3 separate regions of the Homo sapiens genome follow, and regions 2 and 3 are each reported to be linked to region 1. The links are microRNA targets in miRTarBase. Many come from high-throughput screens and were not tested one by one. Region 1 holds a microRNA gene; each other region holds the end of a gene's coding sequence.
What was found. The annotated mature microRNA hsa-miR-3165 reads AGGUGGAUGCAAUGUGACCUCA and lies in region 1 at 2,727-2,748, opposite strand. An mRNA with a match to its seed (bases 2 to 7 or 8) in the 3' UTR can be bound and repressed. Matches are read on the target gene's strand: a 7mer-m8 pairs with bases 2 to 8, a 7mer-A1 pairs with bases 2 to 7 and ends in A, and an 8mer does both.

Region 1 (4,337 bases):
CTCTGCAGTGGCCTCAATGGCCAATGTTTAGTGTCTGGCTCACAAGAGTTCTGGGCAATCTACCTCAGAGCAAGGGCCAATGAAAACCTCTGGACACCACCCTCCCACAGTTAGAAAAATATCTTTATTAAACCTCTCTGCTCTCCTCCTACAGTAACCTGTTTGCCTCAAATAATTGAAAGACAAAGACAATCACTTTGAAGAATCTGGGTCAGGGAAAAAGTAAATGGTAGAGATCCTGCTCAGGACAAAGCTGACCTATGAAAAACTAGAGGGCAGAAACCATTTTGACTTACCTCCTGGTGGAAGCCTCCACACACTAGAACAGGGTGATCTCCAGCAGTCTGGCTTAGAATTAGTTTCCACCTAGGGAAGGGGCAAAGGGACAGGAATGATTATTCATTCCCCTAACCCACCCACTCTTAGTGAGCTCAGCCTCACATTATCCTGGGCAACCCCAGCGTTCTGTGGATCAGACAGCAAGCAGAAGGGAAGCCATGCAGGCCAGGTCAACGGGGTGAGTCAGTGGCAGAGCAGGAAGAGTCACTGGGGCAGAAATTCTGGCCTTCTGTGGCAAGACTGCCAAGCCACACCCACACTTGGTCAGCACTGTGAAGGCCCTGCCCTGTTAGGATTTCAGTCTTTAAGCCAGAAAACTTCTTCCTCAGGAGGCCCCACACCACTCTCATTTTCAAGTGTCTCTCCTCCTGCTCAAAAATCTTCCAGTTTTCTTCTCCCTAAAGCATCATATCTAAATTCTTTGGCTTAACTTTCCAAATCCTCCATTATATGGCCTCAAGTCATTTATTCAACCTTATTTCCCACTATTCTACAGAATATACTCTGAATTGATCAAGCCAGTCTTCCCACTTCTCTCTGCGTGAGCCAAGCCTTTTCTCATTTCCCTGCTTTCAATTATCCAGGAGTGGTAAATTCAAACATCTTCAGGGGTCAGGCAGGTAACAGAAACAAATTATCCAGGCAAGGCCCAGTGGCTCACAGCGGTAATCCCAGCACTTTGGGAAGCCAAGGTGGGCAGATCGCTTGAGCTCAGGAGTTCCAGACCAACCTGGGCAACATAGTAAAACTCCGTCTCTACAAAAATACAAAAAATTAGCTAGGTGTGGTGGAGTGTGCCTGGGTCCCACCCACTTGGGAGGCTGCAGTGAGCTGAGACCGTGCCACTGGACTCCAGCCTGGGCAACAGAGCGAAACCACGTATCCAAACAAAACAAAATGAATGATCCAGTGGGGCACATGGCAGATCTAGGAAACGCTGCACCCCCCTAAAGGCATTCAAATATTTTAATTCAAATATTTATGTAGTGTCTCACTGTGAGCATCACGATAACCTTTTAAATAGTTATTAATACTCTATCTTGCAAATGAGAAAACTTCCCCAAGGTTAGGTAACTGGCAAAATGCTGGGCACAGTCTCTAGACCTGTCTGATGCCAAAGCAAGAGCTCTACACCATTAGGCTTCTAGCAGTGCAAACACCATGGAAGATACAGAACCCTCAAAGTCACTTTTCATGATACACAACCTTAATAGTAGGATGGGAAGCCCAAATCACAGCTTATCTAACCATATCCCAACTGCCTCCAATTCTGTTCATTTTCCAAACCCCATCTTTCTGCCAAAGTATTTCATTCCTAGTTATCCAAGTCCTACTGAATTCCTTCTTCTGTAAATTCCTATAGGGTTTATAGATTAGACAACACAAATAAGTGCTAAATTATATACTGTCTTGCAAAATCAGATACTGCTTCTATGTATTTTAGTGTCAGCCTCATCAATCAAACTATTGTATTAATCTATATAGTTCTTCTACCAAAAATGCCTAACCTGAATCTAATCAAGAAGAATCAGACAAATGCTATGAAAGACAAAAAGGCATTCAGATTAAAAAAGAACTGTTCAAAGTTAAAGCAGACTAAAGACATGATAGTCATGACAACTAAGTGCATAAATACATGCATGATCCTTCAATGAATCCTGAATTTTAAAAAACTCAATAAAAGACATCACTGGGAAAAGATGAGAAATCTGAACAAGTATTATATACTGGATGTATTGAATCAATGTTAAGTTTCCTGAGTGTTAATAGTACTGTAGTTATATAGGAAGATACCTTTTTCTTAGGAAATACTTGCTGAAATAGGGATTAAATAACATGATATTTACATCTAACAGTCAAAAAGATTCAGAAAATGAAGGATAAATAGACAGCAAATTTGGCAAAATGTTAATAGTGACTCTAAATGAGAAGTATATAAGTATTTGTTACATTATTTTGCAAAATATCTATAGGTTTGAAAATTTTCAAAATAAAATAATTTAGTAAGGAGGGAAATCCTGTATTATATACTTTTTTATATACTCAGCTCTGTGACAGATATAATAGGCACTCATTACTTTAGGTATCTGCTCACTACCTAAGGAAACTGGGCATTTGGAGGTCAGCAATCAGACAGAGTCCACTTTGCTGCAGCTCATGAGGGGTATAGTAGGAAATTCTTAGGGAATAAGAGGTTTCTCCAAAACTCACATTGTCACACCACAGGAAATCTAGAAAAGCAGGCAATTACCTCACTCCTCATTGAGGCCATCACAGAAGTACAGGCACTGAACAAATGCCCACTCGCTAGGCAGAATGCAGCTGCTGCCCACACGTTAGTACCCAGTGGTAAGGTGGATACAATGTGACCTCAGAGGACCAAGAGTTGAGGTCACATTGCATCCACCTTGCCACCGGGTACCAAAAATTTGACAATCTGCAAAACAAGTGTCTCTGGCCAGTCACAGGAAGGCACTCAAGTATCAAATAAACATGCCTGAAATATATGCAGTCTTTCCTCCTCACCAGATAAACCAGTCCTCAGCTGCAATAAGGCAGAAGAAATCTGCAAGGCTGAATCACTGGTATTTCCTGTGCAGACTTCAAAGAAACTGGCCCTTCAATAGGACAGAAAGGGCAGGCGACACAGCTGCCAACAGAGGCCTCAACCCAGGAGCATGCTATGCAATAATGCCTTCTCTCCCTTCTACAGCCATCAGATACCTCATTTTTACTTCTGCCAAATGGCCCCTTATTACCGCGACTGATTACCTAATAGCCAACCCTTTACCTTGGTTCTCTCCTCCCCTCAATGAGACCCAAGATACTGGCCTTTCTAGACAGCTCCTCCTCCAATTTGCCAGAGGAATTGTCAAAACTATTCCCCTGGCCAGGCACGGTGGCTCACGCCTGTAATCCCAGCACTTTGGGAGGCCAAGGCGGGCGGATCACACTGTCAGGAGATAGAGACCACGGTGAAACCCCGTCTCTACTAAAGATACAAAAAATTAGCTGGGCGCGGTGGCGGGTGCCTGTAGTCCCAGCTACTCGGGAGGGGAGGCTGAGGCAGGAGAATGGCGTGAACCTGGGAGGCGGAGCTTGCAGTGAGCCGAGATCGCGCCACTGCACTCAAGCCTGGGTGACACAGAGCGAGACTCCGTCTCAAAAAAAAAAAAAAAAAAAAGCTGCCTAGGCCAGGCACAATGGCTTACACCCATAAACCTAGCACTTTGCGAGGCCGAGGCAGGAGGATTGCTTGAGCTCAGGTGTTCAAGACTAGCCTGAGCAACACAGCAAGACCTTGTCTCTACTAAAAATCAAAAAAATTAGCCGGGTGTAGTCCCAGCTACACTACTTAGGAGGCTGAGGTGGGAAGACAGCCACTGCACTCCAGCCTGGGTGACAGAGCGAGACCCTGTCTCAAAAAAAAAAAAAAAAAAGTTGCCCACAGTAGGAGGTAGAGGAGAGGCCATTATTAAGCACACTCTCAGTAAACCATGAATCTGACAGAGCTACCCAAAACATCAATGCAGTCTTAAGCTGCATTAGTAGAAGATGACTCTATGCCCCACCTTTGAAGAGCAAAGTTAGAGGACTTGCAGAGGAAGAACACCAATGACCATGGCAAAGGGTCTAGAAGTATATCATTTCAAATATGGAGGAAGAACTACACACTTTTAGCCAGGGGAGAACAAGAAAACTTTTTTCAAATATACGCATAGCTTTCACATAGATGAGGAGAAAGACTTATGAGTCCACTATAAGAATACAAAACCAGAACTAATGAGTGGAAGTTACAGGAAGACTGATTTTGGTTTGCCACAGGGAAGAAATTTCAGCATGTTGTAGAAGTTCAGAATGTGGGATGTAGAACCCAGAATGCTTGGATTAGGATGTCAACTCCACCACTTATAAACTGTGTGGCTTTGGGGAGATTAATCTACCTGTGCCTCAGTTGCCTTCCCTGTAAAAGAGAATAGTAATAATAGAACTTAGCT
Region 2 (4,337 bases), not on the chromosome of region 1:
TTTTTAGTCCCCGGGATTTTGTCTTTGAGTCATAATACATTATATTCTCAACACATCAAAGCAGTACTTAAGGTTTGAAGAGTTGTTTGTTCCTCCACAGGGCAGGCCTTAGCTCCAGGCTCCCTCCTCCTCCTCTGTGGCTTTCTCTCCTCGGGTTGCCCTTAACATTATTGCATGTGTGCATATTGTCACTGCCCCACATTTCCATATTTCTACATGTCCTTAAAGCACTGGAGCTGGAAAAAGGCATGATTAGAAAGTGAGTTGGTTTTTTTTGTTTTGTGTTGTTTTTTGAGAAGGAGTCTCACTCTGTCACGTAGGCTGGAAGTGGTGCCATCTCTGCTCACTGCAAGCTCCGCCTCCTGGGTTCAAGCAATTCTCATGCCTCAGCCTCCCGAGTAGCTGGAATTACAGGCGTGTGCCACATGCCTGGCTAATTTTTGTATTTTTAGTACAGACGGGGTTTCACCATGTTGGCCAGGCTGGTCTTGAACTCCTGACCTCAAGTGATCCGCCCACCTCGGCCTCCCAAAGTGCTAGGATTACAGGTGTGAGCCACTGCACCCAGCTGAAAGTGGTTTTTAAGTTAAATTTTAACAATGTTTTCTTTTTCTTCTATTGCTTTCAATAACCCCAAAATTCCCTGGGCTCCTACAGGAACAATGACACTGCCATTGAAATAGACAACTGCAGCAGCTACAAGATACCCTCTCCAGTGGCATCTCCAATCAATTTGAATATACCCATGAGAGCTGCCTTGAGCCACAGCCTCTGGGAACAAGAGGACTGGAATGAGCACCTTCTACAAGTTCATATAGCCAGTTACCTAGGAGAGCACTTCTTGGGAGCCTGACACCTAGGCAAAACATGCTCTTCCTTGCATACGTGTACTTGCTACCACCTCTTATAATGCTCCTTTTCCACTGTGAGCCAAGTGACCTTGGGAGAGGTAAGATGGTGTTTCCAACAAGGTGCTTCTCTACTTCCACCAATAAACTTCCAAGTGAGTCCCTAATTTTTGCAGGTTGGGCTATAGGGAGGCTCCAGTTTGGGAAAGGACTGACTGAGAACAGGAGCAGTTTTTGGAAAAATAGGTGGGAAAAGTTACTGTCTGTGTGTACAGAGAACTACCTGAGACTGGGTAATTTTATTTATTTATTTATTTATTTATTTATTTATTTTGGAGATAGAGTCTTGCTCTGTCTCCAGGCTGGAGTACAGTGGTGCGATCATGGCTCACTGCAACCTCCACCTCCTGGGTTCAAGCAATTCTCCAGCCTCAGCCTCCCAAGTAGCTGGGACTACAGGCACACACTACACCTGGCTAAGTTTTTATATTTTAGTAGAGATGGGGTTTCACCACGTTGCCCAGGCTGGTCTCCAGCTCCTGAGCTCAGGCCATCCAGTCACATTGGCCTCTCAAAGGGTTAGGATTACAGGCGTGAGCCACCAGGCCCAGCCTCGAGTCTGGGTAATTTATAAAGAAAAGAGGTTTAATTGGCTCATGGTTCCCCAGGCTGTACAGGAAGCATGACTGGGGAGGCCTCAGGAAACTTACAATCAAGGCAGAAGGCAAAAGAGAAGCAGACCTGTCCTACGAGTCTGGAGCAGGAGAAAGAAAGAAGTGGGAGGTGCTATGCACTTTTAAACAACCAAATCTCGTGAGAACTCACTATCATGAGAACAGCAAGGAGGAAATCCACCCCCATGATCCAATCACCTCCCACCAGGCACCTCCTCCAACACTGGGGATTAAATTCAACATGAGATTTGGGCAGGGAGACAGATCCAAATCATATATCAGTCTGCTCAGTTGAAACCACACAATAGCCAAGCAAAGCCAAGAAAGCCAGTCCAAGGCTGGCTTGGAAAGGGCCTCTGAGGAGAAATCAACTTTCAAAGGGGCAGGGGGAAATAGAGGTTGAGCTACTGCAAGCCCAAAATAAAAGAAATCCTGAGAAGGATGGTAACCAGCTGGAAGATTCCTTTGTGTTGCTCCACTATATCAAGCAAGAAATTGAGTCTTTGGCTGGGCGCGGTGGCTCTTGCCTGTAATCCCAGCACTTTGGGAGGCTAAGGTGTGCAGATCACTTGAGGTCAGGACTTCGAGACCAGCCTGGCCAACATGGCAAAGCCCTGTCTCTACCCAAAATACAAAAATTAGCTGGATGTGGTGGTGCACACCTGTAGTCCCAGCTACTCAGGAGGTTGAGGCAGGAGAATTGCTTGAACCAGGAGGCAGAGCTTGCAGTGAGCTGGGATCATGCCACTGTGCTCCAGCCTGGGTGACAGAGCCAGACTCCATCTCAAAAAAAAAAAAAAAAAAAAAAAGAATAAATTAGGTCTTCATTGCCCTGTGTTAGTGTAAAGCTATGAAGGCTCCCCTGGCTCATACAACATTTCATTGCTAATGAAAACATGGTGAGGAAGATATTGACTGCCCATCACCAGAAATTCTGATTAATTTGACTGTTTCTTACCCAGAACCTAATGAAAGTGAACTGGAAGACATGGCATCTTTGAGTATTGGGAATGGGGTAGGAGCTTTGGCCAACCTTTATACACATAGGGAATACTTACAAGGAAAATACCATGACTCCTTTTTTTTTTTTTTTGAGACAGTCTTGTTCTGTTGCCTAGGCTGGAGTGCAGTGGTGTGATCTCAGCTCACTGCAACCTCCACCTCTCAGGTTCAAGCGATTCTTGTGCCTCAGCCTCCCAAGTAGCTGGGATTACAGGTGTGAACCACCAGTCCGGCTAATTTTTGTATTTTTAGCAGACACAGGGTTTCTCCATGTTGGCCAGGCTGGTTTTGATCTCCTGACCTCAGGTTATCCACCCTCCTCGGCCTCCCAAAGTGCTGGGATTACAGGCATGAGCCACCACGCCCAGCCCCACCACGCCCACTCCAATATTTAATAAGTATTTGTCAGGCTCCTGCTAGGTGCTAGACACTGCGTTTGACGCTAAGTATATTGGAGAGAACAAGACAGACGGACAAGTTACCTGCCTTGAGGGAGGGTCTGGGAGAGATGCCAAGTCCTATTTTGGAGACATAGTGAAGCCATTAATGTTGACCTGATGTCTGAGCCACCCAGTCTGCAAATGAAAGCTGGAGGCCCTGCTTTCCAGCATGTGTGGTTCACATCCTATGTGGTGCAGAAAGAAAGAACATGGTTGCCCTCCTCTTGTGCATGCTCAGTTGGGCTGAGCAGTCAAATCTGGCTGAATTGAGTCAGAAAAGACATCTGAGTTAAGAGGATGCCTGATGCTTGTTGGTTTTGTCTTGCCTCCAGTAAAATTAAAAACAAGTTTCCTTTCAGTATGTTACAATCAAATAAGCTGAGCATTGTTGGTGCTGGTGAGGGACATCTAGAAGCTGAACTTAGAAAAGACTAATGTGCAGGGTGATTGTACTTCCAAATGCATGCCTGTTGTCCTGGTATCATTATTAATACATACCCATTTCACTCTGAGAAGTGTCCCTCAGTGAATCACAAATCATGTGGCCATCCTATCTATATGGCATACTTATAAACATTGAAAGGCTTGTCATCCCCACTTCTTTGTCTTGGTTTAAGCCTTCATCAGCCCTCACCTAGACTATTGTATTAATAGTAACCCCAGGCCAGGCATGGTGGCTCAGGCCTGTAATCCCAGCACTTTGGGAGGCTGAGGCGGGCAGATCACGAGGTCAGAAGTTTGAGACCAGCCTGGCCAATATGGTGAAACCCCATCTCTACTAAAAATACAAAAATTAGCTGGGCATGGTGGCGCACACCTGTAGTCCCAGCTACTCGGGAGGCTGAGACAGAAGAATCTCTTGAACCTGGGAGGTGGAGGTTACAGTGAGCAGAGATGGCGCCACCGCACTCCAGCCTGGGCGACAGAGCCAGATTCCGTCTCAAAATAAAATAAAGTAAAATAGTAACCCCAATTGGTCTCCCAGACTTTATCATCATCATCATCATAATAGCTAACATCTTTAGAAATTTGCTATCTTCTAAGCACTATGCTGACTTTACAAAGATCACATAAACCACACCACAAGCCATTGAGAAGTAGATCTTATTATTACATTTTATAAATGATAAACCGGAGCCACAGAGAGGTTCAAGAACTTGCTTAAGGTCACACAGGTAGTAAGTAGCAGAGCCAGGACTTGAAGCCAGTCTGTCTAACTCCAAAATCCAAATTACTCTTGATGCCTCTCCAATGTCTTCCCAACTCATTCCCTTTTCATACCTCTAACAGAGCAACTTTTTGACACATAAATCTGACAGAAAGGACCAGGCACGGTGGCTCATACCTGTAATCCCAGCACTTTGGAAGGCCAA
Region 3 (4,000 bases), not on the chromosome of region 1:
TTTCCCTTCCTCAGAGACTGTGAACCAGGAAGAGAAGAGTGGCCCAGGTGCAAGTGGGGGCAGCAGCGGGGACCCTGATGGCTTCTTCAACTCCAAGGTGGCATTGTTCGCGGCTGTCGGTGCCGGTTGCGTCATCTTCCTGCTCATCATCATCTTCCTGACGGTCCTACTACTGAAGCTACGCAAGCGGCACCGCAAGCACACACAGCAGCGGGCGGCTGCCCTCTCGCTCAGTACCCTGGCCAGTCCCAAGGGGGGCAGTGGCACAGCGGGCACCGAGCCCAGCGACATCATCATTCCCTTACGGACTACAGAGAACAACTACTGCCCCCACTATGAGAAGGTGAGTGGGGACTACGGGCACCCTGTCTACATCGTCCAAGAGATGCCGCCCCAGAGCCCGGCGAACATCTACTACAAGGTCTGAGTGCCCGGCACGGCCTCAGGCCCCCGAGGGACAGTCGGCCTGGACCGGACCTCTCCTTTCGCCCCCACACCCCCTCCCCTTGCCAGCTGTGCCCACCTTTGTATTTAGTTTTGTAGTTTCTTGGCTTTTATAATCCCCCTTTTTCCCTGCCCCCTGGGCTTCGGAGGGGGGTGCTTGTGCCCCTAACCCCCATGCTCTTGTGCCTTCCCCCTCTGGCCAGGCCTCTGGGCTCCGTGGGGGCGCCCCTTCTTGGAAGGCAGGGCTGGACACTGATGGACAGCAGGCAGGGAGACAGTCCCCTGGCCCTGCCCCTCCCTCGCCCCCCTTGCCACCTTCCCAGGACTGCTTGTCCGCTATCATCACTGTTTTTAATGCTTTTGTGTTCATTTTTTAGCTGTCAACTCATTTTCATCTGTTTTTTGAAGAAAAATGGAAAAATGTAAAAGGCAGCCCCTCCCCAGGCTTTGTGAGCCTGGCCCAAGCCAGTACAAGAGGGCCTGGGGCACGATGTGGTCAGCCAGGAAGCATAGGATGCCATTTCTTTTATAGATTCCTTGGTATTTCTGGTGGGGTAAGGGGCAGGCCAGGGCTGTTCACGCCCATGAGGGAAGAGGAAAGTGCCACTGGGCAAGGTGTCCCACCCTCCCCTCCTGACCCTCCTACGAGGCTTATCCTGGCAATGGGGTAGTCACTGCCACCCTTCCACACACACACACACACACACACACACAAAAAAAAATCCCTTCCTTGTGGGATTCTTGGGCATCTCCTGCCTCCCTCACTCTCACGGTAATTAATGTCTTAATTGGCTGTTGCCTGGGGAACAGGAGAGCTGCTGCAGGCAGATGACCTCATGGGGGGTGGAGGGAGGTGAGGTGCCCAGGTGGCTATTTGCCCTGCAGAGCTGGGAGTTTCACCCCCACCCCCCACCCTGTTCTCTCCTTACCTTTGGCATCCTTTGGCCTGGTGGGGAAACAGAGGCCCAGGGTGGAGACCTAAGCGGGTATAAGACCAGGTGGCCTGCTCCTTTTCTGGGCCCTAGCACAGGTGGGTAACCCCCACCCAACCCAGCTCCTGCTGCTGTCCCAGTCTTGGGCTGGGGCCTGGAAAGAGGAAGAGGCTGCCTGGGGCTGGGCCAGCCCGCTGTGCACTTTGACCCCAGTTCCTTGCCAGCACGGCTGCTAACAGACTGCCACTTGAGTGCGCCTTGCAGGCACTCCCAGAGCAGCCATGGAAGGAGCTGGCCCTCACACCATCCACCTCCACACTGCCTCCTGGCCAGCTGCCCACCCCAGTGCCAGGTGGGAGAGGGAGCAGAACAGCCAGCCCCTTCCAGGTGGCAGTCGGAAGGGTTTTTGTTTTTGTTTCTGTTGCCATTTGTGTAAATACTAGTCTTTTTGGAAAAAAAATAATGTAAAGATGTTTTGTATAAACTCTGAATTATTTTCTTGTTGCTTTTTTCTTAGAAAAAAATGAGAACTAAAAAAAAAAAATTAACCACATGGAGAAATGGGTGTAAAATGGTGTCGTGATGTTGGGAAATGGAGAGTGAGAGTTGTGTGCGTGCGTGTGTGGTGGGGGTGTGTGTGTGTGCGCTTTCCTGTGCTCAAACCACTGGTGACTGGGGCAGGTACGGGCAGATGATGGCTATCCTAGTGGAGCAAGATGTTTTAATGCCCTATGACCCTCCTGCCACTCCCCTCACCCCAGGTTTTTCTGCTCTCTTGTTCTGCTGTCATGGAGCCTGAGACCATTTCCCCTGTTCATCCTGTCACCTCTGTGGCATAGGCCACGGGCATCTGCCCAGTCTGGCACAGGCCCAGTTAGAGAGGGTTAATGGAGGAGGGGATGTTCCCATGGGGACCTGGGTGTGTCCACAAAGTACTGCCACCACCTAGCTGGGGCTAGATCTGGGACCTGCTGGCAGGCCCAGCCCTGCCCTGCCTCAGGACGCCTGGAGGTGGATAGAAATAACTTCCCAAGATCTGAACTTCAGCTGCAGCCTACTGGGTATTGGGCCTGCTTCAGGCTGCCCAGTTCACCTCTCAGCCAGAAGAATCTTGCTTCTGAGCTGGGCCACACCACAGCCACCACCATGGCATAGTTGGGGGCTTCTGGCCAGCAGTCGATACCCTCAAGCTAGAGCAGCCTTGAGCACCCGGTCTACCTCCCACAGGCTGATGAGTAACTTGCTCAAGTCAAAGAGTGTGGTGAGGGCCCTGAAGAGGGTTTGGCCTCCATCCCACAGCGGAGAGGCAGACTGGCAGGGCCTGGAGCCTTCCTGCTCCAGCCTGGAGCCGCCTGCTGGTCTTGTGGGGGGACTCCCTGTGGAGACGGCTAAGACAGATGTCAGGGGAAGAGGACAAGTGAGATCCAGCAGCTAAAAATGGGGTAGAAGGCAGCAGAGGAAAGAGGAAGAAGAAGGAGAGAGAGAGTGATCCAGAGTAGGAAGCCCCAGAGAATTAGCCAAGGTGCCACCCGGGCTATGAGGGAAGTGGGGAGCTGGTGGAGAAGAAAGGGGGCGGAAAGCCACAGGGCCTGCAGGCGGAGGGAAGGAAGGTTGGGCTAGTGTAGGGCTGGGCCTGGCTGGGGTGCTCCTGGAGCCAGCTGGGGCAGAGGCTGTTTATTTGGTTTCTCATTAACCAAAGGAAGTGCCTGGATCAGATGGAGCCTCTGCTGCTTGACTGCCTGCCCAGAGTGGGGCCCGGCCTGGGCTGGGGGTCTCTCATCAGGGTTGGTTCAGGCCAGATTGGTGTCGCTCACTGGGGTAGAGCCTGACTCAGTTGAGTGAGCACTTCCCGCACTTCTCCAACTGAGTTTCCTCCAGTAGTCCCCCACCCAGTCCACGCCTTCAACCCTCCCAGTGGGGGATGGAGCACTGGGGGCCCCCTGGGAGCAGCTGTGGGAGTGTGAAGTAAAATCCAAGGGAGATTTTACAAAGGAAAGTGGGGCAATCTGCTGGTTAGCCCAGAAGCTTCGCAACTGGCTGTTCCCTTGCCCTAGCATGGGTGCCATGGCTGGTGCTGGTTTGAGCTTGGTGCTCACACTGTTGGTCACACAGTGTGCTTAGTAGTTCCTTGTGTCCTTCATCTGGACAGCACCTGCCAGTTTGTTCAAATGCTTTTACACACTTTGTTTCATTGAATCTCACAAACTGCCCTGTGAGGGTGGTAGGTGGGGAATTACCTGACTTATATTTGAGATGAGGAAACCGAGACCCTGTGAGGGGCTGTAACTTGCCCAAGGACACACATCAGGTGAACAGGAGCACTAGGATACAAGTGCAGGCCTTTTATTACACCACGAGCAAATAAGAGGTATTCCTTGAGAGCGAGGGGTATGACTTCCCACTTCTTGCCTTTGAGCAAGCATGCTTCCTTGGGGATCTTAAAAAACAGGAGCCCTCCCCACCTCCACCCCCCATTCCCTTTCCATCTATCTTGGTCAGGGAGGGACCAAGCTCAGCTAGCTGGAGGCAGGAGGTGGGAGCCTCCAGTGGTAGGGCCCCAGACTGCCCCACCCTTGACTCTCCTTCCTGTCCCAGCTGGGCCTAAGCTCCTGGTGAGTCAGGGA

Region 2: the mRNA of GARIN1A is a reported target of hsa-miR-3165. Seed matches in the 3' UTR shown: 7mer-A1 at 985-991, 7mer-m8 at 1,698-1,704 and 7mer-m8 at 2,834-2,840.
Region 3: miRTarBase lists EFNB1 as a target of hsa-miR-3165. Seed matches in the 3' UTR shown: 7mer-m8 at 1,682-1,688.

What each region holds. Positions count from the first base shown.
Region 1 is chr11:72,069,546-72,073,882 of GRCh38, forward strand. MIR3165 (microRNA 3165) reads right to left here and starts at 2,757; the gene lies at 2,683-2,757. NUMA1 (nuclear mitotic apparatus protein 1) reads right to left here. Exons shown (of 27, transcript NM_006185.4): 2 at 297-366.
Region 2 is chr7:128,682,307-128,686,643 of GRCh38, forward strand. GARIN1A (golgi associated RAB2 interactor 1A) reads left to right here. Exons shown (of 5, transcript NM_001128926.4): 5 at 658-4,337. The coding sequence ends at 853. Among named protein-coding and RNA genes, the nearest start is that of GARIN1A, 12 kb to the left of the region's middle.
Region 3 is chrX:68,840,228-68,844,227 of GRCh38, forward strand. It overlaps EFNB1 (ephrin B1), which reads left to right. Exons shown (of 5, transcript NM_004429.5): 5 at 15-1,933. The coding sequence ends at 427. Among named protein-coding and RNA genes, the nearest start is that of EFNB1, 13 kb to the left of the region's middle.